7 linked regions of the Homo sapiens genome follow. The protein of the gene in region 1 purifies or fractionates together with the protein of each later gene. This does not show direct contact. Each region holds a gene or a part of one and is shown in the gene's direction. Other genes may lie near its edges.

The links.
Region 2: the proteins of PALM2AKAP2 (region 1) and SART3 fractionate together in Homo sapiens (co-fractionation; one large-scale study listed by BioGRID). This does not show direct contact.
Region 3: the proteins of PALM2AKAP2 (region 1) and KIF5B fractionate together in Homo sapiens (co-fractionation; one large-scale study listed by BioGRID). This does not show direct contact.
Region 4: the proteins of PALM2AKAP2 (region 1) and AP3M1 purify together in Homo sapiens (affinity purification with mass spectrometry; 3 studies listed by BioGRID and IntAct, with this or other methods). This does not show direct contact.
Region 5: the proteins of PALM2AKAP2 (region 1) and TFG fractionate together in Homo sapiens (co-fractionation; one large-scale study listed by BioGRID). This does not show direct contact.
Region 6: the proteins of PALM2AKAP2 (region 1) and BCAR1 purify together in Homo sapiens (co-immunoprecipitation; one large-scale study listed by IntAct). This does not show direct contact.
Region 7: the proteins of PALM2AKAP2 (region 1) and ATE1 purify together in Homo sapiens (affinity purification with mass spectrometry; one large-scale study listed by BioGRID and IntAct). This does not show direct contact.

Annotation. Positions count from the first base shown.
Region 1 is NC_000009.12:110,157,698-110,161,197, forward strand, and holds part of PALM2AKAP2 (PALM2-AKAP2 protein isoform 3 (PALM2-AKAP2)), read left to right. Parts: intron 1-3,500. UniProt on the Homo sapiens protein: Binds to regulatory subunit (RII) of protein kinase A. May be involved in establishing polarity in signaling systems or in integrating PKA-RII isoforms with downstream effectors to capture, amplify and focus diffuse, trans-cellular signals carried by cAMP.
Region 2 is NC_000012.12:108,526,674-108,530,173, reverse strand, and holds part of SART3 (spliceosome associated factor 3, U4/U6 recycling protein), read left to right. Parts: coding exon 1-32; intron 33-3,500. UniProt on the Homo sapiens protein: U6 snRNP-binding protein that functions as a recycling factor of the splicing machinery. Promotes the initial reassembly of U4 and U6 snRNPs following their ejection from the spliceosome during its maturation.
Region 3 is NC_000010.11:32,021,926-32,025,425, reverse strand, and holds part of KIF5B (kinesin-1 heavy chain), read left to right. Parts: intron 1-2,389; coding exon 2,390-2,578; intron 2,579-3,168; coding exon 3,169-3,286; intron 3,287-3,500. UniProt on the Homo sapiens protein: Microtubule-dependent motor required for normal distribution of mitochondria and lysosomes. Can induce formation of neurite-like membrane protrusions in non-neuronal cells in a ZFYVE27-dependent manner.
Region 4 is NC_000010.11:74,144,329-74,147,828, reverse strand, and holds part of AP3M1 (AP-3 complex subunit mu-1), read left to right. Parts: intron 1-3,500. UniProt on the Homo sapiens protein: Part of the AP-3 complex, an adaptor-related complex which is not clathrin-associated. The complex is associated with the Golgi region as well as more peripheral structures.
Region 5 is NC_000003.12:100,729,994-100,733,493, forward strand, and holds part of TFG (protein TFG), read left to right. Parts: intron 1-2,514; coding exon 2,515-2,679; intron 2,680-3,500. UniProt on the Homo sapiens protein: Plays a role in the normal dynamic function of the endoplasmic reticulum (ER) and its associated microtubules. Required for secretory cargo traffic from the endoplasmic reticulum to the Golgi apparatus.
Region 6 is NC_000016.10:75,238,125-75,241,624, reverse strand, and holds part of BCAR1 (breast cancer anti-estrogen resistance protein 1), read left to right. Parts: intron 1-2,964; exon of another isoform or gene 2,965-3,500. UniProt on the Homo sapiens protein: Docking protein which plays a central coordinating role for tyrosine kinase-based signaling related to cell adhesion. Implicated in induction of cell migration and cell branching. Involved in the BCAR3-mediated inhibition of TGFB signaling.
Region 7 is NC_000010.11:121,918,032-121,921,531, reverse strand, and holds part of ATE1 (arginyl-tRNA--protein transferase 1), read left to right. Parts: intron 1-3,500. UniProt on the Homo sapiens protein: Involved in the post-translational conjugation of arginine to the N-terminal aspartate or glutamate of a protein. This arginylation is required for degradation of the protein via the ubiquitin pathway. Does not arginylate cysteine residues.

The DNA of each region.
Region 1 (3,500 bases):
CCTGCCTTTCACTCTTGAAAGTGTCCCAGTTTGGGTGATAAACCATCTGGTCACCTTAAACTTGAATGCTATGAAGTTCACAGTAAGAATTCCCTGCTGTTTTATTGCCTTTTATATCCTAGCTGGCTAAGTTAAAGGATTTCTGGAGTTGAAGCCCAGATGCTGAAAGTTGCTTTCAAAATATATGGCGGTAAAGAAAGGAAGAAAGCAAATGGATATCTGGCAGCCTGGCTTCTCACTTGGCATCTCCCAGGCTTTCCCTTTTGTTTACACCTGAACTGCGTGGAGCACTGGCTCAGCTGCTGTATTAGGCTGCAGCTATTCTACTGGGCTCTTCACTGTATTAGACAGTGGGATGATGCCCGGCCCTGGGTAGCTGCTGCAGACATTTCCACTGCTGAACCTCACTGTAGGGGAGCCAGCAGCTCCTTTCGTGAGCCTGCAGGATTTTTCCCTGGCTACTCAGTCACTTTCACCAGCCCTTCTTTGAAGCCCCACTTCAAAGGATAAAGTTTGCCTTAAGAATTTTCTGAAAGTTAAATCATTTTGAAACTTGGTGCTCTAGGTGTCTGGTTTCTTTTCTCCCAGTGACTCTGCTCTATACATCAGCAGTTTTGGTAGAATTTAGCCAAGTGGGTGCCCCACACTCTGATGTGGATGGGGAAGAACAAGTAGAACCACTTAGCATGTGACCCACGCGAGTGTTTGCTGAACACACTCTACTTGTCACTTGTGTATGTCTTTTGTGTTGGAGTGCAGATGATAGGGAAAAATACTCCATACAGAAGGGTAGAGGCAGTTCTCACTCATTTCGTAAAGGCAGAGGGCTGGAAGCTCTTTTGTGCACACGCTGACACTCTGGCAGCCACCTAACAAATGCCAACCAGGTTGAGTTTTTCCTCTGCATGAATGAAGCTGCTTGGAATCAGCGTTTTAATATGCTGATTGCCCTTCACTTACAAATCAAAGAGGCAGCCTCCTGTCTCTATATTTTCCAGTAAATAAACATTTTGAAAAAGAAAGAGACCTAACTAATTAAGCTGTTAATATCCCTGGATCTTGGATTCAAAGCCAAATGTTTTGCACTGTTATTGCTATTACAACAGAACCAAGTTTGCTGTTGTTGAAAATTCTTAGGATCAGGACAAAATCTACCAATCCACTATATGCTCATTTAAGAGACCCAAATCTAAAACAACAAATTCAGATTGCTTCTAAAGCAAAGATATGATCATCAGTCAGGCTTCAAATGAGAGCCTTCTCCTAGCCCTTCCAATTTAGGGGACCTTTTCTCCTGTATCTGTGTCAATCACTGGTGAATGTGTTGAAGTTTACCTGTAGGGATGAACAAACATTCATTTTTTTCCTAACCAATCTGTGGCCCCTTTTCCATTTTTTCTTTTTCTTTAATACCAGAAGGATAGTAATAGAGAGCAGATGGATTGCTGGGGGGATGAGTTGTGTAACTGGCTTACCTATCCGTAGAAGCATAAAGTTAATTCTCTTAAAGGTAAAGTAATTCTGGTCTCTAGCCTCCATTTACATACACTATTCTCACAGAGAAACATGGCTTCTTAGACTCTCCACCCTCTAAGCACCTCAGTGGCTCACACCTACACACCCAGCATCTCCCCATGTTATGCAGCATCACCCCTGGCACCTCCATTTGCCAATATTTTTTCCAGTAAGCCACTTGGCAGCATTTTGGCATGCCGTTTTGGAGATGATAAACCACACCTGAGAATCAATGCCTGTCGCGTGATTAGAACACAACCATGTGTTTGCCCATCGAAAGTAACAGTTATTTGTGAATTGAGCAAAAATAATTCTTATTTTTTATTCTTTTTAAGGAGAAGGCAGAGTTAAAAACAAGACAGGCGCTGATCATTGGAATGTGTATAAAGTGTGATATGTTAGACACAATGGTATCGAGGAGAGTGAAAGACAGAAGGAGAAAGATAGAATGTAGCTACGGCTGAAGTTTTGCTGAGTGAGAAAAACTGATCTTTGCCATCAAAACAAGTTCAGTGTCCCCCGAGCCCCCATCAGGGGTGTGGTGGCCTCTGGGGTCCTGTCCACAGGGACTCAGCTCAGGGCCCTGCTCTCTCCAGTTTTCCACTTTATAAAAAGTCATATGCAGAGAGGCCCCTGGCTTATGGGAGTCAGGGAGTGGTGTTATCCAAAGGTTGTCCCCAACCAGCCATATTTGTTACTAGCTCAGAACTTGAGCAAAGTACTCCCTTTAGTTGCCACAGTCTTCACCCACCTGGGCTGATTTCTTTGTCCTGTATATTGGAGTCACCAATGAGTATCTCCAGCCTCACTTATTAATGGACCTCTTGGCTAATTCTGAGGGCAGGAGGATTACCATCCCCACCCCTACCCACTTACCCAAGGCTGTTTACCAACCTATGCAAGGCCTTTGTGTGAATTAGGAAAAAAAACCACCCTTGTTCCTCTATGAAGATATGAAGATGCAGCCCTGCACCAGCCACACATTTGGGGGGTAGAGTAGGGGACTGGGCTTTAGTACCATTCATCCCTTTAGTCTGATGCTTTTGTGCAGTGCACACAACACACACCCAGATGCAGCAATCCTATTCATATTGTGGGTTTCTCTTATCTGGAAATGTTCTCTTATGTGGAAATGTCCACTTATCTGGGTCTCATACCATTTCTGCTCAGTCATGCAATTCATAATGGACTAGTGAATCCTAGTTTCCTAAAGGGCTTCTTGATGCCTTGCAAAGCGACTGCCTCCAAGGTGGGGTTGCCCACTCATGGACCTGGAAGACATTTGGATCAGTGGGCACAAATGATGGGCTATTTGGATGTTTTTCCTTCAGGCATGAAGAACCCCTCTAGGAAACTCTGATTCATTAGTCCATCCTGAGTGACATGACTGTATTTAGGCAAACAGTATTTTTCCAGCCAATTGTTTCCCTAACCTGACCTGAGCCTCAGAAAGTGAAGATGATGGGTCATTGAGTCAATGATGCTCATGAACATCTCGAGGGTTTGCTTTGCCTTTCTCAGTTGAAGGGATGCTGACCAGAGTCCAAATCACAGCCTCCTGGATGTTCAGCCCCATCTTTACTTTTAGCGCAGGATCTGCCCTCAGTGGGGTTTTCCAGTGTGCTCTCTCTCTCTTTCTCATCCCATGACTTCATTACTGAGAGGTCATCCAACCACTCTGTCTCATCTTAGAACAAGAGAAGACCTCGTCGGTTTTCCTGGGCTACGTCAAAGCTGAGAGTTCCTGGCACACATTACCCTTCCAGACCAGGACATGCATTGAGAGTTGTGGCCATACTCTCGCTCAGTGTGTGAAGGAAGCCTATCTGCCTCCTGTTTCCCCAGACGCTACAGGAAGCTCAGTGATGCCTTGTGCTTCCCTAACTCTCTCTTACGTTCTCACTCGTACCCTAGTGAAGATGCAAAGGAGAGAGAAGAGCTCCTGACTTGTCAGCTCCCAGCCATTAGCCCAATCATGACAGAAC
Region 2 (3,500 bases), on another chromosome or scaffold:
TGATGAGAAAGAGTGGGGCGATGATGAAGAAGGTAAGGAGCTCTTGAGAAATTGTGTTTTGAAACGTCTTAAAGTTAGAGAAGTTGCGAATACAGTATGAAGAACTTTCTTCCCTGAACCGTTACCAGCTTGATACCCATTACCCTTTGATCACTGTTAGGGTGTATGTCTTGCAAACAAGGGGCCCTCTTCTACATGACTAGAATGCAGCCATCAGAGCCGGGGTTAGCAATGAGCTATGGGTTCCCATTTATCCTGATAATGTCCTTTGTAGTGAAAGGATCCGGTTCAGGATGCACTATTGTGTTTAGTTGTCCTGTCTCCTGGATCTCCTTGAGTCTGGAGCACTCCTCAGCTTTTTTTTTTTACTCTGATGACCTGCAGTCTTGTAAGGGGGCAGGCCAGTTGCTGTGTTGTGCCCCTCAGCCTGGGTGTGTCTGATGCTCCCTAAGCATTGGATTCCACTCATGCATCTCGGGCAGGAATAGTGCACAAGTGCTCCTGTGGCCTGCCCATTGAGTCCCATCAGGTGGACTGTGATTCGCTTTGTTCCATCACTGGTGATGACCCTTTTGAGAATTATTTATGCTGATTCTCTACTTATCCCAGGTTTGGCTAGCAAGAGTTCCTTCACACAGGCTTCTATGTCCCTTTGACCTGTCCCCTTGTTCTTTGATCATTTCCTTACCTTCTAGCACACAATACCCAAGGGTCATCTTATACTTTCCATAACTCAGCCCTGGAATCCATCATTTCTCCAAGGTTCCTTTGAGTGATGAGTGGTATTTAGAAGGTGCTAGTTGTGCTCACTGCTGTTGGTTATTGTTCTGAGGCCTGAGTGGTCGAGGGTAGGGAGTGTGTGTGTGTGTGCGTGTGCGTGTGCATGTGTACACATATTTATGACCATATTTACTTGTGTAACTATTTGTATATACTGAAAGTCATGATTTCACACCAATACCTCCAGTTCCGGTCTAACACCACAGGGTTCCCCTTCACACTTGCAATGCCCTTCTCTCTCTTTTTAAAATTTATTTATTCATTTATTTTTGAGACAGAGTCTCGCTTTGTTGCCCAGGCTGGAGTGCAGTGGGGTGATCTTGGCTCACTTCAACCTCCGCTTCCCGGGTTCAAGTGATTCTTGTGCCTCAGCCTCTCAAGTAGCTGGGATTACAGGCATGCACCATCATACCTGGCTAATTTTTTGTATTTTTAGTAGAGATCAGGTTTCGCCATGTTGGCCAGGCTGGTCTTGAACTTGTGGCCTCAAGTGATCTGTCTGCCTCGGCCTCCCAAAGTGCTGGGATTACAGGTGTGAGCCACTGTGCCCAGCTGTGTCACGCCCTTCTCTGACCTTGAGAAACTTGGCTCCCTCTATTCTCAGCATCCTCAGTTACTCCACCCGGCCCCTGTAGGTATGTAATCAACTTCCTGTGCCTGCCTCCCCTTCTCATATGTGCCATCCCCACCCTGTTTGGTCTCCCACACCCGGGGCCAGGCACGGCCCTGCATGGACACCCTTGCTTCTTTCACTCAGGCTTCCAGATCTAGGCTGCTGGGTCCCTGTCACTGCCCCATGCCTGCCTGTCTTCTTCCTTCCATTCAGGCTCTAGCATCCCGCACCACTGCTGCAGCCCCAACCCTGCACAGACCTGCCAGGCTTGGCCCTACTTTTTTTTTTTTTTTTTTTTGAGAGGGAGTCTCGCTCTGTCGCCCAGGCTGGAGTGCAGTTGCGTGATCTCGGCTCACTGCAACCTCCGCCTCCTGGGTTCAAGTGATTCTCTTCCTTCAGCCTTCCAAGTAGCTGGGATTACACTTTGCCAGCCACCATGCCCAGCTAATTTTTGTATTTTAGTAGAGACGGGGTTTCACCATGTTAGCCAGGCTGGTCTTGAACTCCTGACCTCAAGTGATCCTCCCGCCTTGGCCTCCCAAAGTGCTGTTATTACAGGCATGAGACACTGCACCTGGCCTTGGCCCTGCTTTTAATGGTTCTGACTTAGTGGAATTTTCCAGCAGTGTTTCTTTCACCCTTGTAATTTCAGGGACGGGCAGCTCTGGGTCATATTTATTTCAGAGAGTCAGTCAAGGTAAAGAATTGTCTCTGGTGGCTGGGCGCGGTAGCTCATGCCTGTAATCCCAGCACTCTGGGAGGCTGAGGTGGGCGGATCACCTGAGGTCAGGGGTCAAGATCAACCTGGCCAACATGGTGAAAACCTGCCTCTACTAAAAATACAAAAATTAGTTGGCTGTGGTGGCGGGTGCCTGTTTTCCCAGCTACTCGGGAGGCTGAGACAGGAGAATTACTTGAGCCCGGGAGGCAGAGGTTGCAATGAGTAGAGATCATGCCGTTGCACTCCAGCCTGGGAGAGAGAGCAAGACACTGTCTCAAAAACAAAACAAAACAAAAAAAAGAATTGTCTCTGGACTTGAAAGGACTCTGTATACTTTCTTAATACAGATGTGTGAGCCAGAGAGAACTGGGAATGGAGTCATCCATCGTTGAGTTGACCTTGCTTGCACACCTTGTTTGGGCTTTCCTAAATGACTGAGGATGGCTCATTGCTCCACTGGCCTCCCAGTTTGGCAGAATAAGGCAAATGTGATGTGTGACCGCAGTGGTGTGTGATCAGGGCATGGCGTGTGATCAGGACTGTGGGAGATGGCATTGTTAATACTGGTGGAGGCCAAAGAAGGCACTAGTGGGTCAACTTCGTACCAGGAAGACTGTGGGGGAAGAGATGCGGCATCCAGGGGGAAGACCGAGTGACTGTGGCAGCGAGAAGGGAAGGTCTGAGCTACACAGGGAGGAGCCAATGTTAGTACAGCCTGAAGGCACAGCACAGCCTGGCATTTTCTGTGAGCAGCAGATAATTGGGTTTGAACTCAGATGCATTAGAGAGGGGTGGGGCAGTGGTCGAGGAGGCTGGAGTGGTAGGTGGGCCAGTCAGCTGGACCCAGCCCAGGGACACTCTTGAATACAGTAGCAGTGTGCAGGGCTTACGTTGCATTGGAAAGGCAGCGGGTGAACTGATGGGGAGGTCTGTTTGCCGGAGGCTGATGTCTGTTGAGCTTCAGTACTGGCCCTCTGGAGGCAGTGGTGAGGACAGACTGCAGTAGAAGATTGTGGTTAAGCTCTCTTAAGGACACAAGGCCATATTGAAAGTGTTTTAGAAACCACAGATCCTTTGTAGTGCTTTCCAAAATGTGCTCCCTGGGGCACGGGTATCAGTCACTAGGGTGCTTTTCCAGTGCAGATTCTCATGTCCTATCCCAACCCTGCTGATCTGGGCTTTGTAGGAGAGGGGCCCTGGAATTTGCCTTCTGAACTTTGAGATCCACTGACCTTTTGTATAATTAAGAGTGGACAATGGGGATTTATGTTATTACTTCCACTTGATTGAGCCCACTTACCCGAGTGTAATTGGGGCACAGAAAGTCGTGGGACAGGTCAGGCGGATCACAAAAGACTTCTCGGGGTGGTGCTTGCCCCTCCGAGT
Region 3 (3,500 bases), on another chromosome or scaffold:
CCTTCCTAGGTGACAGAGTGAGACTCTGTCTCCAAAAAAAATAATAATAATTCATGTGTAAGTTATTCTTTGGACATAAATTTTCAGTTCAGTTGAGTAAAAATACCTAGAAGTGCTAGGTTGTACGTTATGACTATGTTAGCTTTGTAAGGAACTCCCAAATGGTCTTCCAAAGTGGTGGAAACATTTTGCATTCCTATCAGCCATGAATGAGAGTCTGCTGTTCCACATCATTGCCAGTGTTTGCTCTTGTCAGTTTCTTGGGATTTTACTAATGTATGGTGTTATTTTATTGTCATTTTAATTTGCAGTTGTGTTTTTTCTTATTGTTGAGGTTTTCTTTTTCTTTGAGACGGAGTCTCGCTCTGTCACCCAGGCTGGAGTGCAGTGGCGTGATTTTGGCCCACCATAACCTCCGCCTCCTGGGTTCAAGTGATTCTTCTGCCTCAGCCTGCCAAATAGCTGGGAACACAGGCGCGTACCACCACGCCTGGTTAATTTTTATATTTTTAGTAGAGATGGGATTTCACCATATTGTCCAGGCTGGTTTCGAACTCCTGACTACAGGTGGTCCGCCTGCCTCAGCCTCCCAAAGTGCTGGTACTACAGGCATGAGCCACTGCGCCTGGCCCTGTTGTTGAGTTTTGTTTTGTTTTATTTTGAGATGGAGTCTCGCTCTGTCGCCTAGGTTGGAGTGCAGTGGCATGATCTCGGCTCACTGCAAGCTCCTCTTCCTGGGTTCAAGCAATTCTTCTGCCTCAGCCTCCCGAGTAGCTGGGACTACAGGCTCCCACTACCACACCTGGCTAATTTTTTGTATTTTTAGTAGCAACTGGGTTTCGCCATATTGGCCAGGCTGGTCTTGAACTCCTGACCTCAGGTGATCTGCCCGCGTCAGCCTCCCAAATTGCTGGGATTACAGGCGTGAGCCACCGTACCTGGCCTCCTATTGTTGAGTTTTAAGAGTTCTTCGGCCGGGCGCGGTGGCTCACGCCTGTAATCCCAGCACTTTGGGAGGCCGAGGCGGGCGGATCACGAGGTCAGGAGATCAAGACCATCCTGGCTAAAACGGTGAAACCCCGTCTCTACTAAAAATACAAAAAATTAGCCGGGCGTAGTGGCGGGCGCCTGTAGTCCCAGCTACTTGGGAGGCTGAGGCAGGAGAATGGCGTGAACCCGGGAGGCGGAGCTTGCAGTGAGCCGAGATCCCGCCACTGCACTCCAGCCTGGGCGACAGAGCGAGACTCCGTCTCAAAAAAAAAAAAAAAAAAAAAAAAAAGAGTTCTTCATATGTTTTGGATATAAGTCTTTTATCAGATAGTGTTTTGCATTATTTCTCTGTGTCTTGTTTTTTTTTTTTTGTTTTTTTTTTTTACTCTCAACGTCATTTTTTGAGACTAAAAATTTTTAATTTTAATGAGGTCCAACTTACCAAGTTTTACATTAATAGATTGTGTTTTTGGTATTGTATTTAAAAACTTGTCACCAAACCCAATATCACCTAGATTTTCTCCTGTGTTAAAAGTTTTTTTTTCAGTTTTGCATTTACATTTAGATCTATGATCCATTTGGAGTTAATTTTTCTGAAAGGGGTAAGGTGTGTACCAGGATTCATTGTTTCACATCTGGATGTCCAGTTGAAGAGACTGTCCTCCCTCCATTAAATTGCCTTTGCACCTTTGTCAGAGATCAGTTGACTGTATTTTGTGGTTTTATTCCTGGGCTCTTTATTCTGTTCTGTTAACCTGTTTATCTGTTCTTTGCCAGCACTGTACTGTTTTGATTATTATAGCTTTACAGTAAGTTGCATAGTGTCAAGTCCTGTGACTTTGTTTGTCCTTAGTGTTGTGCTAGCTATTCAGGGTCTTTTGACTTTACATGTAAACTTAATCATGTCATCTGCACAGTTTTATTTCTTCCTGAAGGTGAAGGAATATACAGTGACCACAATTCCTTCTGGTTGAGCTTAAAGTTCATCCTTTCCCTGCCACCTAAACATCCTCTTGTTAAATTTTAAGCTGAACGTGCACATGATTAACAATGAATTTACTGAAGAGGTCCTGTAAAGAGGAAGTGAAAAAATTGAAAGAGGCAGAATTTATTAGTTTGGTTGTATTTTTGTGTTTTCTTTAGGTTTACATTTATTTATTTTTCTTGTTGGCATGTATTAACATTATTCTCAGTTTTTAAAAAAAGGAAGGCAAAAAGTAAGCTGTATTTATTTACCTTTCGTTGAAAACAGTAATAAAAGAAAAAAATAAGATCCAGACTTTGTATGAATATTGAGTAATACTAAAATATATTTTATAAAAAGATTTTATAGCCTAATTGGGAAAACACACATTGAACATTTTTGGCTTTAATTTTTTATTTTACTTTTTCCTTACAGCAGCCTGAGGGAACTGGCATGATAGATGAAGAGTTCACTGTTGCAAGACTCTACATTAGCAAAATGAAGTCAGAAGTAAAAACCATGGTGAAACGTTGCAAGCAGTTAGAAAGCACACAAACTGAGAGCAACAAAAAAATGGAAGAAAATGAAAAGGAGTTAGCAGCATGTCAGCTTCGTATCTCTCAAGTATGTTATAGAACAAAGTTTATTCATTTTTTTGAAACAGCCACATAGAAATTTTATTTATTATACAAGTTTTCAGAAAAATGTGTGTCTATAGGTGAAATTTAGTTGTTTTTTTCCTAGTCTAGCTGCAGTAAATTTGAATGATTTAACTGAGTTATATTTGCCTAACATAAATATGGGTTATGTATAGAAATTTACCAGAATGATGTGACTGGTGGTAACTTGTTAAAGACTTCAGAATTCCAGGGTGGGCAAAACTGCAGGGAACCAGTTTCCTGGCTTGGCAACTGAATGAATGGGGCCATTCACCACTATCAGAATTTCACAAGGAGGGAAGATGGTAACGTTAGATGGTGGTATCTGTAAAATTAGTATTTCATATTTGAGTCTTCAGTGCCTTAGTTTGCAAGTTATGATCACCAATGAATTAATTGATTACATTCTTTAACATTTCAAAATTGGCTCCTGAATATTTTAGTTTTAAATATTCCCAAATTTATCATATATAGATAATGAAATGTTTACTGTCAAATATTCTTAAAGTGTATGCATATGTTTTCCACTTCATATCAGTATATTTTTTCCAAAAGCATGAAGCCAAAATCAAGTCATTGACTGAATACCTTCAAAATGTGGAACAAAAGAAAAGACAGTTGGAGGAATCTGTCGATGCCCTCAGTGAAGAACTAGTCCAGCTTCGAGCACAAGGTATAGCTTCCAACTGTTTATGAGTTACATCTGTGTTCTTATTTTAGTATAATTGTAGTAAACTTAATATTCACACTGAAAGAAATAGTAGGAATATGGCTGATTTCGAATGGTAAACAAATCATACATATTAATGTTGCTTTGAAACATTTTTTTGTTGTTGTTTTGAGACGGCGTCTTCACTCTGTTGCCCAGGCTGGAGTGCAGTGGCACT
Region 4 (3,500 bases), on another chromosome or scaffold:
CAGGGTTTCGCCATGTTGGCCAGGCTGGTCTCGAACTCCTGACCTCGTGATCTGCCCGCCTCAGCCTCCCAAAGTGCTGGGATTACAGGTGTGAGCCACCGCACCCAGCCCACCAAAACTACCTTTACCAAGATCACCAGTGTCCTCTGTGTGTTAAATCATGCATTCTCAAAGCAGATAAAAACTGCTTCTTGTGAGGTGAAAAAAATATAATACTCTTTTTATGTGTAAAGCACAAATACAATACATAAACAGAGAATATTCTGTGGTATTAAAATTTTATGGTGATATTAATTAGCTTCATTTAATTATTCCACATTTCATAAATCATAACATCTGGTACCCCTAAATATATACAACTATAATTTGTCAATTTACAGTTGAAAAAGAAAGAATAATAAAAAGTTTTATGGGTGAGGAATTTGATTGGCAGGGTGGTGAGAAGATGGAGTCTAAAAGGGCTCCTTAGCAGGCATTAAGGAAAAGAAAGTTTAAAAAACACTCTTAAATCAACAGACATTTTCAATTCTTTTTTGTTGTTGTTGAGATGGAGTCTCGCTCTGTCATCCAGGCTAGAGTGCAGTGGCGCCATCTCGGCTCACTGCAGCCTCCACCTCCCGGGTTCAAGCGATTCTCCTGCCTCAGCCTCCAGAGCAGCCGGGATTACAGGCACCCACCACCACACCCAGCTAATTTGTTGGTATTTTTAGTGGAGATGGGATTTCACCATGTTGGCCAGGCTGGTCTCGAACTCCCGAGCTCAGGTGATACTCCCACTTTGGCCTCCCAAAGTGCTGGGATTATAGGTGTGAGCACCACGCCCAGCTGACATTTTCAATTCTCGTAGCTTAACCTCTTTGTGCCATGTAACAGTATTTACCACTCCATTCTTCTGGAAATACACTAATAAGCTATAGTTACTAAAAACCACCCTGTTTTTTTTTTTTTCTTAGGACTCTTCAGTCACATCTTGGTCATTCTTTAGGTCCACTTCCTTGACCCACCTCCTACTCAAATGTTGGAGTTCCTGCCATAAGCTCTCTTCATACTATGCACATTCTTTCTTTTGTTTCAATTCTCCTTTTGATTAATTCCCATTAACAAAAAATCCTGATTACTTACAATTCTGATTCCAATCTGGCTTCTCTAAAGCACCAGAAGGGTATATATAATAGTTTTTTGAATATATTTATTTGGGTCAGATGTATCCAGAATTGGTCAAATTACACAGGACCAGGCCAAGTGACACATCTCTCTCATCTCCACACACCCCCTCCTCCAAGCCTAAATGTTTTTTAGCACAAAACCTAAATGTTTCTCTTATCTTTTCACTGTACCCCATCCTCATAGTCAAGACTCTAGACCAGGCCATCACCACTCATCTCCCAACTGGTGTCACAGTGTTCAGTTACCGATTATCCAGTTTCCGCAGTGTAATTAGTATGATCTTTCTAAAAATGTAAATCGGATTGCATGATTAATTAAAAAAATTATAAAATGACTTTACATTGCACTAAGAATAAAGTCCAAACTCCTTAACAAGTTTAGCATGCTCCATGAACCAATCAGTCTCTGCTTACCTCCTTGTCCAGTTTCATCTCCCCTCTTCCCTCCACCTTCCATATTTGCTAAATTTATACTGGATTTATTTGTCTTGTGTTCTCTCTCACCTCTAAGCCTTGTAGATTCCCACAGCACACTATATTTCCTGTATCATCGTAGGAATTACATCTTAACTGTATTAAGTTGTCTTCTCTGCTCATCTCTAAATGCTGTGAGTATAGGAACTCTAATTTTGTTTGTTCTTATATACCCAGTGCCTCAAAACTCTGTGTTGAATGAATATGTGGTCAAGATATTGGCTGAGAATCAGAAGAGTAGATGCTTTTCTGGTCTCATTCTCTCAAGTTCAGTATAGGCCCTTCTGTGCCTCCATCATATTATATATAGAAGGAATACATTTTTGTTTTTAGACACTGTCTTCCAAGAATATTTTGACTATTGTAAATGCATTGCTTGTGAATTACCCAGGATGATTATAAAATGTTTAGTAAAAAGGATTTATGATGTATTTAAGCTGCAGTCAAAGCTCTGGTGGGTCTGCCTCTGAACACAGTTTCTTCTAGTGGCTTTTAAATAAGCTGGGAGAATTCTGTTTTATGACTCAAAAGCCACTAGGAACAAAAAGATGGTTGTGGTAATAATGAGTGTGTAGTTTTCTCAGAAAGTTTATGAAAATAATAATTAAAAAAATAACTGCAGCTACCAAAAGGACGATAAATAAAGAAACAGGCTAATTTACACTGCAACATGGTATTATTTAATTGTTATATGCATTAGACCTTGGTCATAATATGGATAGAAGAAGTAAGCTCTCTTTTCCTATTATAGAAGGTTAAGATGGGTTTTAAAGCTAAGCACAGTCGAGAACTTACAAGTGTTATGCTTTCATCTCAGCACTAAGGATAACAACAATAAATCTAGGAGGCTGGTTTAACTTTCTGTATTCTGAGACCTGAACTACTGCCAATAAAAACAACTTCGGTGGAAACTTTCCTGGAAAGAATTTTTCACCAGCTTAAGAGGATGAGTAGAGATCTGGCCCTAAAATAAAGTAACTACAAAATCACTTACTTTCAAAACAAGCAACTCTTTCAGAGTGTATTGTGGCAAAGGAGCACTATAAATCCTTGTGAACTATATTTTCGATAGGATGAATGATTTTAGATAACCTGTGTCGGTGCTTTTAAATATAACTTCCACTCTAAATAATTTATTAAACTTCCTCAGCATAACAACTAGAATGTCTTTTGCCTCCTAACTAAACAAGAAATGTCTTTTACCTCCTCCTCTTAAATCATAAGCTAGGCTGGGTGCAGTGGCTCATGCCTGTAATCTCAGCACTTTGGGAGGCTGAGGCGGGCGGATCACGAGGTCAGGAGTTCGAGACCAGCCTGGCCAACATGGTGAAACCCCATCTCTACTAAAAATACAAAAAATTAGCTGGGCATGGTGGCGCATGCCTGTAATCCTAGCTACTCGGGAGGCTGAGGCAGGAGAATCGCTTGAACCCAGCAGGCGGAGGTTGTGGTAAGAGGAAATCGTGCCATTGCACTCCAGCCTGGGCAATAGAGCAAGACTCCGTCTCAAAAAAAAAAAAAAATCATAAGCTAAAGCAGCACATTCATGCACTGTTCAATATATTAACTACTAACCATATATGGTTATTTAAATTTAAATTAATTAAAATTAAAACTTCAGGCTAGGCTTGGTGGCTCACACCTGTAATCCCAGAACTTTGGGAGATCAAGGTGGGAAGATCACTTGAGCCCAGGAGTCCAGGATCAGCCTGGGCAATATAGGCAGACTTTGTCTCTACAAAACAAAAATTTGAAACTCAGCTGTGTGTGGTGATGCACGCCTGTAAGCCCAGCTACTCAGGAGACTGAAGTGGGAGGATCGCTTGGGCTCTGGAGGTGGGCGTTGGAGTGAGCCAAGAT
Region 5 (3,500 bases), on another chromosome or scaffold:
ACCTTTTATATTTCAGGTCAAAGAAGGTTGCCTATTCTGAGCCCTACCTCTCCAAACAAAAATTTCCAATTTTAGATCAAGAATCAATGAAAAAGTTAGACAATTTTTCCAGAAGAATTCATAGATGCTGACACAACATTTGCATATAATTTCAGGGGATTTAACCATCTGCAGAATATTAAGAAGTGTAGATGAGAATTTAACCAGTATAGCCAATACTGTTCAGAAATTAGCTACAGTGGCCCACATTCTACTCTAAGGAATGGATTTATGAGTTTTTTGCTTTAGGTGAAACTTTTTCCTCACCTCTTTCTTGCTACTGTTTATACTTTATTCTTTGTGTCTATATTTTTTATACATACTGTTAGCTTTTTACCTATGTTAATGTAAAAGGTGTTAAAATTGGTTTCTTCTCTGCATTTTGGAAATCATGCCATATGTTGTTTTCTTGTATGGCCATTTTCTAGTTATTGTGTCCTGTCTGACATATCTGATGATAAGATGATATAAGAATAATACAATCTGCATTATATTTTTAGAGATAGTTCTTATTTTTTTAGAAAACAAAAACAACAAGAAAACCATACATCAGAAACTGAAATCTAGTCCACAAAATGAAATTGCCAATCAGCTATCAGTGCTATTTAGAACCTGTGGCTTACCCTCACCAAGAAATGTGGCCACCTGTGGTCTTCAGCTCTCTATTACAGCGGTTCTTGGATGCTTGTTTTCCTTTAAGAGGCAAATGATGTGTAAACTACCTTAGATAGAAGATTGACCTGTTGCAGTATCTCCAGCAGCTAATGGAGCAAGTAGTAGGACGTATAGTATGTTTCCTGATGGTTTTAGTTTGTGATAAGTGAAAAGAGGCATAGGTAGTGAGATGTGAGGGGAAACAACTTGTAAGACTGACGTGGTATGCTCTTGGGATTAGAGGAAGGAAGTTGGTAGGGAAGATAGATAACTGGTAGACATGTTTTAAAGGAATACTTCTAGTAGTAGTTTTCTTTTTCCAAACATTTAGAAAATATTAGGGTAGCCTGGAATGGTATGTTAGGAATGAATGAGCTGCCAGCCAGTGTGTGCTGTGGGTACTTATATTCGGTTTAGCACTTAACATTTTTTTCAGAAGATACATTTTGTATTGATTACAGGGGTGATCTAAGAACTGATGTTCATTTACTTGCTTGGTAACAAAAGTGATAATCATTGTCCCTTAATTGAGTAAATGGTTAGCAACAGTCTTTTTGTTTACTTGTTCGTGTTTTTTGTTTGTTTCTTTTGATGTCTTTTGTATCTTGGACTTGGATTCCTATTTGTAAAATGTATGTTAAAATTCTTGAACTCTTTTTCTTTCACAAGACAGTAGTATAAATGCCTGTGGAATATCTTAGTATCCTGAGAAGAAAAGCATGATTTTAAATTTAACCTGCTCATAATATTTGACATTTTGTTTTTCTGTTGTTGTTTTAAACATTTTATTATAGAAAAGTTTAAGTATATAAGAAAGTAGACATTATAATGAATCCCAGAAACCCACATCCAGTTTCAACAGTTACCAACTTATAGTATCATATAATTACACTATACACATTTCCGCCCCTCCTGTTACCCAGAGTGGAGTACAATCTCAGCTCACTACAAACTTTGCCTCCTGGGTTCAAGTGATTCTCGTGACTCAGCCTCCTGAGTAGCTGGGATTACAGGCATGCATCACTGTGCCTAGCTAATTTTTGTATTTTTGGTAGAGATTGGGTTTTGCCAGGCTGGTCTCGAGCTCCTGACCTCAAGTGATCTACCCACCTCGGCCTCTCAAAGTGCTGGAATTACAGGCATGAGCTGTTGCACCCGGCTCCCCTCCTGTATTATTTTGATGCAGATCCCATATACATCATTTCATCTGTAAGCATTTTAATAAGTATTTTAATAAGTAATACATATTAAAATAGAAGGTAGCAAATTCAAAAATGTTTTTAATGTGCTATTTATGGAAGATTATGAATTAATTATGGTTGGCTTGATTTCCATGTAATTTAATAGTGGACCAGTAGACAGTAGAAATAAAATGTAAAATTTGAGATTATAACCTTAGTTCAGTTTCTTTTTATAAAATAAAGCCTTAGTTCCTATAATTATTATTTCCAGAGTGCCCAGTGGGTATCTGATACTAGGATATAGGTTATTGGGCTCCAAAAAAACCAAAAAAAGTAAAATGTTTCTCTTTATCAAGGAGCTTGTATTTTTTTCATCTAATGTTTCTTACAAAAGGAGGTAAATAATTTTTTTGGAAAGCTTTTGTTCATCTTCTGTTTCTTTTTGCCCTCTTCTCCCTGTTACTAGAAGGAAAAATATAAAAAAAATAAAGGAATTAAAATGATCTGTAATCCTATATTCCGACATGCTTAACATTCCAGACTATCATTATACACCTGCATTATTTCCCTTGTACTTTTAGGCCTTACTGAATATAGATAAAAAGGAAACAAGTTTTTGTTTATTCCTCTATTTTTACAGATACTGTGGATGGTAGGGAAGAAAAGTCTGCTTCTGATTCTTCTGGAAAACAGTCTACTCAGGTTATGGCAGCAAGTATGTCTGCTTTTGATCCTTTAAAAAACCAAGATGAAATCAATAAAAATGTTATGTCAGCGTTTGGCTTAACAGATGATCAGGTTTCAGGTAAGTTGGTTTCCAACTCCTTTACACCCTTCGTTTCCTTCATCTTTCCGTTCTTCCCTTTCCTTCTTTCTTTAATTGAAGAATAACTTGGATATGGTGAAGTGCACAAATCTTAAGGGTTCTGCTTAACAAATTTTTACATATGTGTACACTTATGTAAAAGACTAACTAGATTAAGATGTAGATGATTTCCAGCACTTCAGAAAGCTTTCTTATGTCCTCTCCCCAAGAGTAGCACCCTCCCCCTTAAAGAATAAGCACTGTTGGGTTCAAGTAAATTTTTGAAAGTAAAATTTAGAAAGTTTTTAAAAATCTGAACTATTTTATAATTTGATTAGTTGCAGTATTCGAATTATATTTGATTTGTCTTATCTCCTCATCTTAGAGAAATTGAAAATTAAATGTAGATTTTCTTGTTAAATTGCTTGAGTATACAGTGGGTTTTTATATAAATAAGTTTTTAACCTTAAAGCAGTACCTATATTGTTTTATTCTGTTTAACTTTTGGTTATAATTTCTTCATTATTTTTTCCTGCTTTTTCTCTTTTCGGATTCTAATAACACATACATTGGAGAGCTTGATACTGTCTCATGGGTCATTAAGGTTCATTTTTCTTCAGTCTTCTCTCTGTTCTTCAGGTTGGGTGATTTCTGTTGAACTCTTCAAGGTCGCTGTGATTTCTAATATGCTGTGGAACCTTTCTAGTGAATTGTTTAATTGTGCTTTCAGCTCTAGAATTTCCATTGGGTTTTTATAGTTTCTGTTTTTCTGTTGAGATTCTTTATTTTACATTCATTAAGTCTATATTTTCCTTTAATTG
Region 6 (3,500 bases), on another chromosome or scaffold:
CCACCAAGCCTGGCCACCAGGGGAACCTGGGTCACTGGCTCCCACTTCCTGCTCTACCTGCTCCTTCAGCCATCTGGTCAGAGGCGAGCCTGGCTGGCGTGGGGTGCCTGGGTGGGGGTGCTCCCAAACTGGCTTTAGCAAGAGGAGCAGGGTCCTGTTATCCCCTGGGGAGGCGGCAGGGAGCAGTGTCCTGTAGGGGAGCCTCAGGCCACAGTCCAGGTATACCCACACCCCACACAGATGAACACACGTGCATGATGCCTGTACCCCACAGATACGAACACCCATGCACACACCATATGCACGAACACACACATGCGCTACATGAATGTGCGTGAATACATGCACATATCTGCATCCCATACCCCATAAATGGACACACGTATACGCCCACACATGCGCACATCATATGCATGAACACGCACACACCCAAACCCCATATGTGTAAACACACGTGCATACTCACCCCACACACAGACACGTGTACGTCCACACATACAAAGCGTGTGCACCCACCAGTATCCCACAAACGTACAAATGTATGTGCGTATGCACACGCACACACAGTCCACACTGCACATGCCCCAAGGTCAGGCACATCCCCACCCCTCCTCTCCCGCCTTTGCAGTGAAGCTTGTCCTGGTGCGGCTGGAAGCCCTGTGGGCTGGGGAGCAGCAGCGAGACCCCCAGACAGAGCCCGGCCTCGAGGCTGTGTTTTGGCAGCTGTTCTGTCTCCGTCTCCGGCAGGGGGCCTGCTCTCAATTGCATCAGGGGCTCAGCCAGCTGGGTCCTTCTCTGCCCATGCCCACTGGTAGAGCTGCCCAGACCTGTGCCCCAAGGGCCCTGACCTGGCTGATGGCCCAGGAAGGAGAGCCCTGTGTCCTGGGCCTGGCTGCTCTCCCCCAGGAAACCTCCCCCAGTCTTGATTGTGTCTGCTTGTATTTTATGATCACAAAAGCAATGCTTGTTTGCTGTAGAAAATGCATAATGTATGGGAAAGTCTGGAGATGAAATTTTCCAATCGCGGTAATCACTGGGAAATTCTGGCATATTTTGTCTAGTATCTGCCCTGTGTTTCACAGATTTATACATGCAGTTTTGCATTTCAAAGTTGTAAATCCAACATTAGATATCAAAAGCATTTTGTTGAATTCTTAAAGCTTGTCCCTGAGCCGCCTTGGACTTTGCTGGGTTGCCCCCTCTGCTGGGGCGGGCCCTGGGCAGTTTCCGATTGCTCATGCCTTCATTACGGTGGCACGGCGGTAACACCTGGCTGCGGGACATCTGTGTCTGAACCTCCAGGTGCTCCCCTCCAAGCCTCAGGCCTGCCCCTCAAATGCCTGGGAAACTGAGTCTCCCAGTTCCAGGGTAGTGGTTGGCTGGGCTGAGAAGGAGCCCTTGCCAGGACTTCACGTGGGCGGGAGGGACACTGGCTCTCAGGAAGCCAAGAGGGTGAGTGACAAGGATGGTGGCCAGGAGGGTCAGAACCCTGGGCCCTGGAGCAGGGTCCAGTGGTTGCTAAGGTGGGAGCCTGGTGGCCCGTATGGCTGAGGGAGAGGTGAGGGCCACACTGGCACCGAGACTCTTTGGGCCGGGTGTGGGCTGTAGGAATCTGAGGGCAGAGGCTCTTTCATGGTCAGATGGGACCCCCGGGGGAAGGCGTCTGTGGGAGGTCGCTCAGGTAGTGCCCCTGGTCAGTGTCTAAGGAGACAGCCATGGCGTGAGGTCAGGCGTGCACGTGGTCCTGTCGGGCCTGTGTTTCACCCTCCTCGCCCTAGAAGCTTCATCTTGCCCCAGGCTCCCCTGTGCTGGGACCTCAGGCTGGGGTGCCTGGAGCTGGGGAGGGAGGGGAGCGGGCTATGGTGGTGGCCCCTCAGGCCACCATGACCCAGGTCGGGTGAGCCCCTCATGCTGGGGTGTGTCCTGGTGGCCGTGGTCGCAGCGCTCCTGTGGTGCTCCATTTCCCAAGGAGGAAACGAGGCTCCTGGATTGGGACCTGGGGGTGCCAGAGCCGGGAGCCAACCCAGGTCAGGGGCGACACCCATTTTGCAGAAGGGGGAGACCAGCCACTGAGCTCCAGGGCGGGGGCCCACTTTGTCCCCTTCCTCCGACCTGACACCTGCCTCTGGGGCCCTTACCGGGAGGCTGGGATGTATTCCTGAGTTCGCTTGTCCCCCCGCTTGATGCCTGATAGTAGGGGAGGAGAGGGGCGGCACCCTGGCCCTGGGGCTGCCTGGGTTCTGTGCGTGCACCTGGCAGTGGGCCTGTGCTGTGTTTTCTCTGCATTGTATGAGGCATGTGTGTCAGAGACCGTGTGGGTCTTATGTCAGTGACTGTGCCTCTGTTCTCTCCTCCTGGGCTCTGGCTGTGTTCCCCTAACCCCCGGGGGACCTCCACGGCCTGCTAGTGGGGTCTCAGGTGTGCAGCAGGGTGGCCTGTGATTAGCAGTGGGGCTGAGTCATTCCCCTAAAGAGCTTTTCCCCCTGGTGGCTGCGTTGCTCTGTTTTTCTAACAGAAACATTTGGTCACTGTGGCTGCCTACTGCCACCCGACTCAGCTCCAAGAGTGGCAGGCGGCCATTTGCCTGGGGAGGCAGGCCTGGGTCCAGCTGCACCCCTGGGCCTCACCGCGTGAGGTTGGGATGGCCACCGGCAGGGTGCTTTTGGAGGATGCTCATCCCTCCTGCTGGTGCTGGGTCCTGGCTGAGCCTTGAGGCTGGGTCCCCACCTGCCTTTGGGAGGCTGGGAGGCCTGGAGAAGCCTCAGGCCGTGCCTCGAGGCCCAGCCAACCTGCCACGTCCCTCCGCCCCGCCTGCCCCGCTGTTGGCAGGTCCCTGCATCTAAAAATAGTTCTGGAGGAGACTCAAGTCTGGGGCGCGTGGAGGGAGATGAGTCTGGAGAGGCAGCCGCCAAATCCACTCCCAGACGCACTGGAAGGGGGCGGGGACACCCCACGGAGGCCCCCAGCCGGGACTCTGCTACCAGGCGTGCTGGAGACCTAGTGGGCCCAGTTCTGCTGCGCTGCGGGGGGCTCTGCCAGGCCTGCGGCTGCTGGGGGGTGCTGGCGCCTCTGCCACCCCCATGCTCAGCGCCCCCCTCACAGCACCCTCAGCAAGCAGGGCTGGCTGCCTGCCTGCATTGGGAGGGCCTCTAGGGGTTCAGGGGCACTGGGCCCGGGGGAGGGGCTGCTTTGGCGCTGCTGCCCTGGGGGATGTGCGGGGAGGCCCTGAGTCAACCCTGTCCCAGACATCCCCTTTGATGAAGGAACAAAAGGTCTTTCAGTGGAGAGAGCTGAACAGGGAGCCTGGTGGTGGAGGCGTGTGGGCGCAGTGTGCCCGGGGGCTGGAGAATCCCACCAGGGAGGCCTTGACCTCCCCAAGGCAGGGAGACCTTCAGGGAAGGAGGCTGCCTGGCATGGCCCCTACCCGCTTCAGGCTGGTGCTGGTGAGGGGTCCTGTGGCCCTGGGCAGGCCATTGTGCTGCCTGCCTCTTCACCCACTG
Region 7 (3,500 bases), on another chromosome or scaffold:
AGGAATCTATGAACTCATTCCGTAAAACAAAGGAAAATTTATTTTTTCTTCTCTGCATGTTGAGTGCTGGGAGAATCTCCAGAGCACACTAGATAATATTATCAAGGCTTTTCCTGGGTCTGGGCCGTGCCTGTTGCTGCCTCTGGGACAAGTCGGCCTAATACAGGAAAGCTTATTTATCTTTCTTTTTAATTTTATTTTTCTTTAATTTCCCACCTCACTCACTTATAAGTGGGAGCTAAACCTTGGGTACTCAGACATAAAGATGGCAAAAGTAGAAGCTGGAGACTACTAGAGGAGGAGGGAGGGCGTGAGCTAAGGGTTGAAAAACCAACTTGGTATGACGATCAGTACCTGGGTGGTGGGATCATCCATATTGCAAACCTCAGCATCATGCAATATATCCAGGTCACCAGCCTGTACCTATACCCCCTGAATCTAAAATAAAAGTTGAAAAAAAAATTAATTGGAAGGAAGAGGGCTTAAATTTAATCTGCCACTTACACTTAGAGTCCAGTTTTTTTTTTTTTTTTTTAAAGAGACGGAGTCTCGCACTGTCGCCTGGGCTGGAGTGCAATGGCGCGATCTCGGCTCACTGCAACCTCTGCCTCCTGGGTTCAAGTGATTCTCCTGCCTCAGCCTCCCGAGTAGCTGGGATTACAGGTGCCTGCCACCACGCCCGGCTAATTTTTTGTATTTTTAGTAGAGATGGGGTTTCACTATGTTGGCCAGGCTGGTCTTGAACTCCTGACCTCATGATCCACCTGCCTCAGCCTCCCAAAGTGCTGATATTACAGGCGTGAGCCACTGCACCTGGCCCAGAGTCCAGTTTTCTTAAATGGGAAACTTAAACCAAAGTCTATTTTCCTACAAAGTCTTCGTTGGATTTTTTCATAATCTTTTGGATTTTCCATGTACCTTCTCACCTCACCCTAACATAGAAAAATCTTCTCTCTTATTCTGGTTATAAGGTCATCATCATCTTTTTCTTCTTTTTTCTTTTTTTTTTTGAGACAGGGTCTTGCTCAGGCTGGAATGCAGTAGCACAACCATGGCTCACTGCAGCCTGCCTGCCAGGCTCAAGTAATCCTCCCACCTCAGCCTCCCAAGTAGCTGGGACTGTAGGTACACACCACCAGGCCTGGCAAATTACATTTTTTTTTATAGAAAAGGGGTCTTGCCATGTTTCCTAGGCAGATCTCACCATGTTTCCTAGGCTGATCTCGCCATGTTTCCTAGGCTGATCTCCAACTTCTAGGCTCAAAGGAGCCTCCTGCCTCAGCCTCCCAAAGTGCTGGGATTATAGGTGTGAGCTACTACTGCACCTGAACCTTTTTTTTTGATAGAAAATGTGAAAAGTGCGTTAACATTTTGAAGCATGTATTTGCCCCCAATTTCAATGTGTATATATACTCATAAAATTAAAAGACAGTTTTACTTTAAGAAATGAAAAATTAAAAAATTAAACAGTTTTTTGTCCATTAGTTTTTTTGTTTGGTCCTCAAAGCTGTCTCCCTTGGTTGCTCTTAACTTGTTTTTGGGTTGCAAACCATTTTGAGAAGTCGATGAGAGCTGGCCTCCTGCCCAAAGGGATGTAGACAAAAATATGTAACATTTTGCATATCCTCCCCACCGAGACTGAGTCTTGCTGTGTCACCCAGGCTGGAGTGCAGTGGTGTGATCTCAGCTCACTGCAGTGTCCGCCTCCTGGGTTCTAGCAGTGCTCTTGCCTTAGCCACCTGAGTATCCGGGACTACAGATGCCCACCGCTAGGCCTGGTTAATTTTTGTGTTTTTAGTAGAGACGGGGTTTCACCATGTTGGCCGCGCTACTCTCGAACTCGTGATCTACCCACCTCAAAGTGCTGGGATTTCAGGCGTGAGCCACCATGCCCAGCACATTTTGCGTGTTAATTTTAGAATGATCGCAGACTCCCAAAGGTTCACTGATACTTGATTAGGAGCTTTTTTTTTGAGATGGAGTCTTGCTGTCGCCCAGGCTGGAGTGCAGTGGTGCTATCTCGGCTCACTGCAACCTCTGCCTCCCGTGTTCAAGCGATTCTCCTGCCTCAGCCTCCCGACTAGCTGGGATTACAGGCGTGCACCACCACACCTGGCTAATTTTTTTGATATTTTTAGTAGAGATGGGTTTCACCATGTTGGCCAAGCTGGTCTCGAACTCCTGACCTCAGGTGATCTGCCCGCTTCAGCCCCCCAAAGTGCTGGTGTATCTGGAGTTGGTTCCTTCTGGTGGGTTCTTGGTCTCGCTCACTTCAAGAATGAAGCCGCAGACCTTCGCAGTGAGTGTTACAGCTCTTAAATGTGACGCAGACCCAAAGAATGAGCAGCAGCAAGATTTATTGTGAAGTGTGAAAGAACAAACCTTCCACAGTGTGGAAGGGGACCCTAGTGGGTTGCCACTGCTGGGTAGGGTGGCCAGCTTTTATTCCCTTATTTGTCCCTGCCCATGTCCTGCTGATTGGTCCATTTTACAGAGTGCTGATTGGTCCATTTTATAGAGTGCTGATTGGTCCATTTTATAGAGTGCTGATTGGTCCATTTTACAAACCTCTAGCCACAGAGCACTGATTGGTGCGTTTTACAATCCTCTAGCTAGCTACAGAGCGCCGATTGGGGCGTTTTACAATCCTAGCTACAGAGAGCTGATTGGTGCATTTTACAATCCTCTTGTAAGAAAAGTTCTTCACGTCCCCCCCACCCCCGCCCCGACCCAGAAGTCCAGCTGGCCGTTGGATTGGCAGAGGATGAGAAAAATGGGGTCTGGTTTGCTGACACTGTGTCATTACACAAAGAATAGAATGACAGAGTATCCTGTGCTGTCCTCTTTCAGTTTTCGTGGTTATAAAGAGAAGGTATCTTCTAAGGCAGAAGTCATTTGTCTTCAATTAGCAATTTATTGGATTATGGACAGGATTCTATTCATAAGTTTGAAGTTGATTGGCTTAATCTGTGATCAGAAAAGGGTGATTTCGATTGGTTAAAGAAAAAAGAATCTAAATTGTATTTGGTGCCTGTTACATGGAAAGCACTATTCTAAGCATATTGCCTTTATAAAAGGGGATTCATTAACATTGCAAAATAAAGTAGTTATGTGATTTTTGCATTTTACGTGGCATCAAATGTTTCCTGAATTGCGTCTCTTTGTAATTCATTATACATCATCTTTTTTTTTTTTTTTTGAGACAGAATCTTGTTTAGTCTCCCAGGCTGGAGTGCAGTGGCGCGATCTCTGCTCACTGAAACCTCCGCCTCCCAGGTTCAAGTGATTCTTCTGCCTCAGCCTCCTGAGTAGCTGGGACTACAGGCGCATGCCACCATGCCCTGCTAATTTTTGTATTTTTAGTAGAGACGGGGTTTCACCATATTGGCCAGGTTGGTCTGGAACTCCTGACCTCATGATCCGCCTGCCTTGGCCTCCCAAAGTGCTGGGATTACAGGCGTTGAGCCACTGGGCCCAGCCACATCATCTTTTTATGGAGT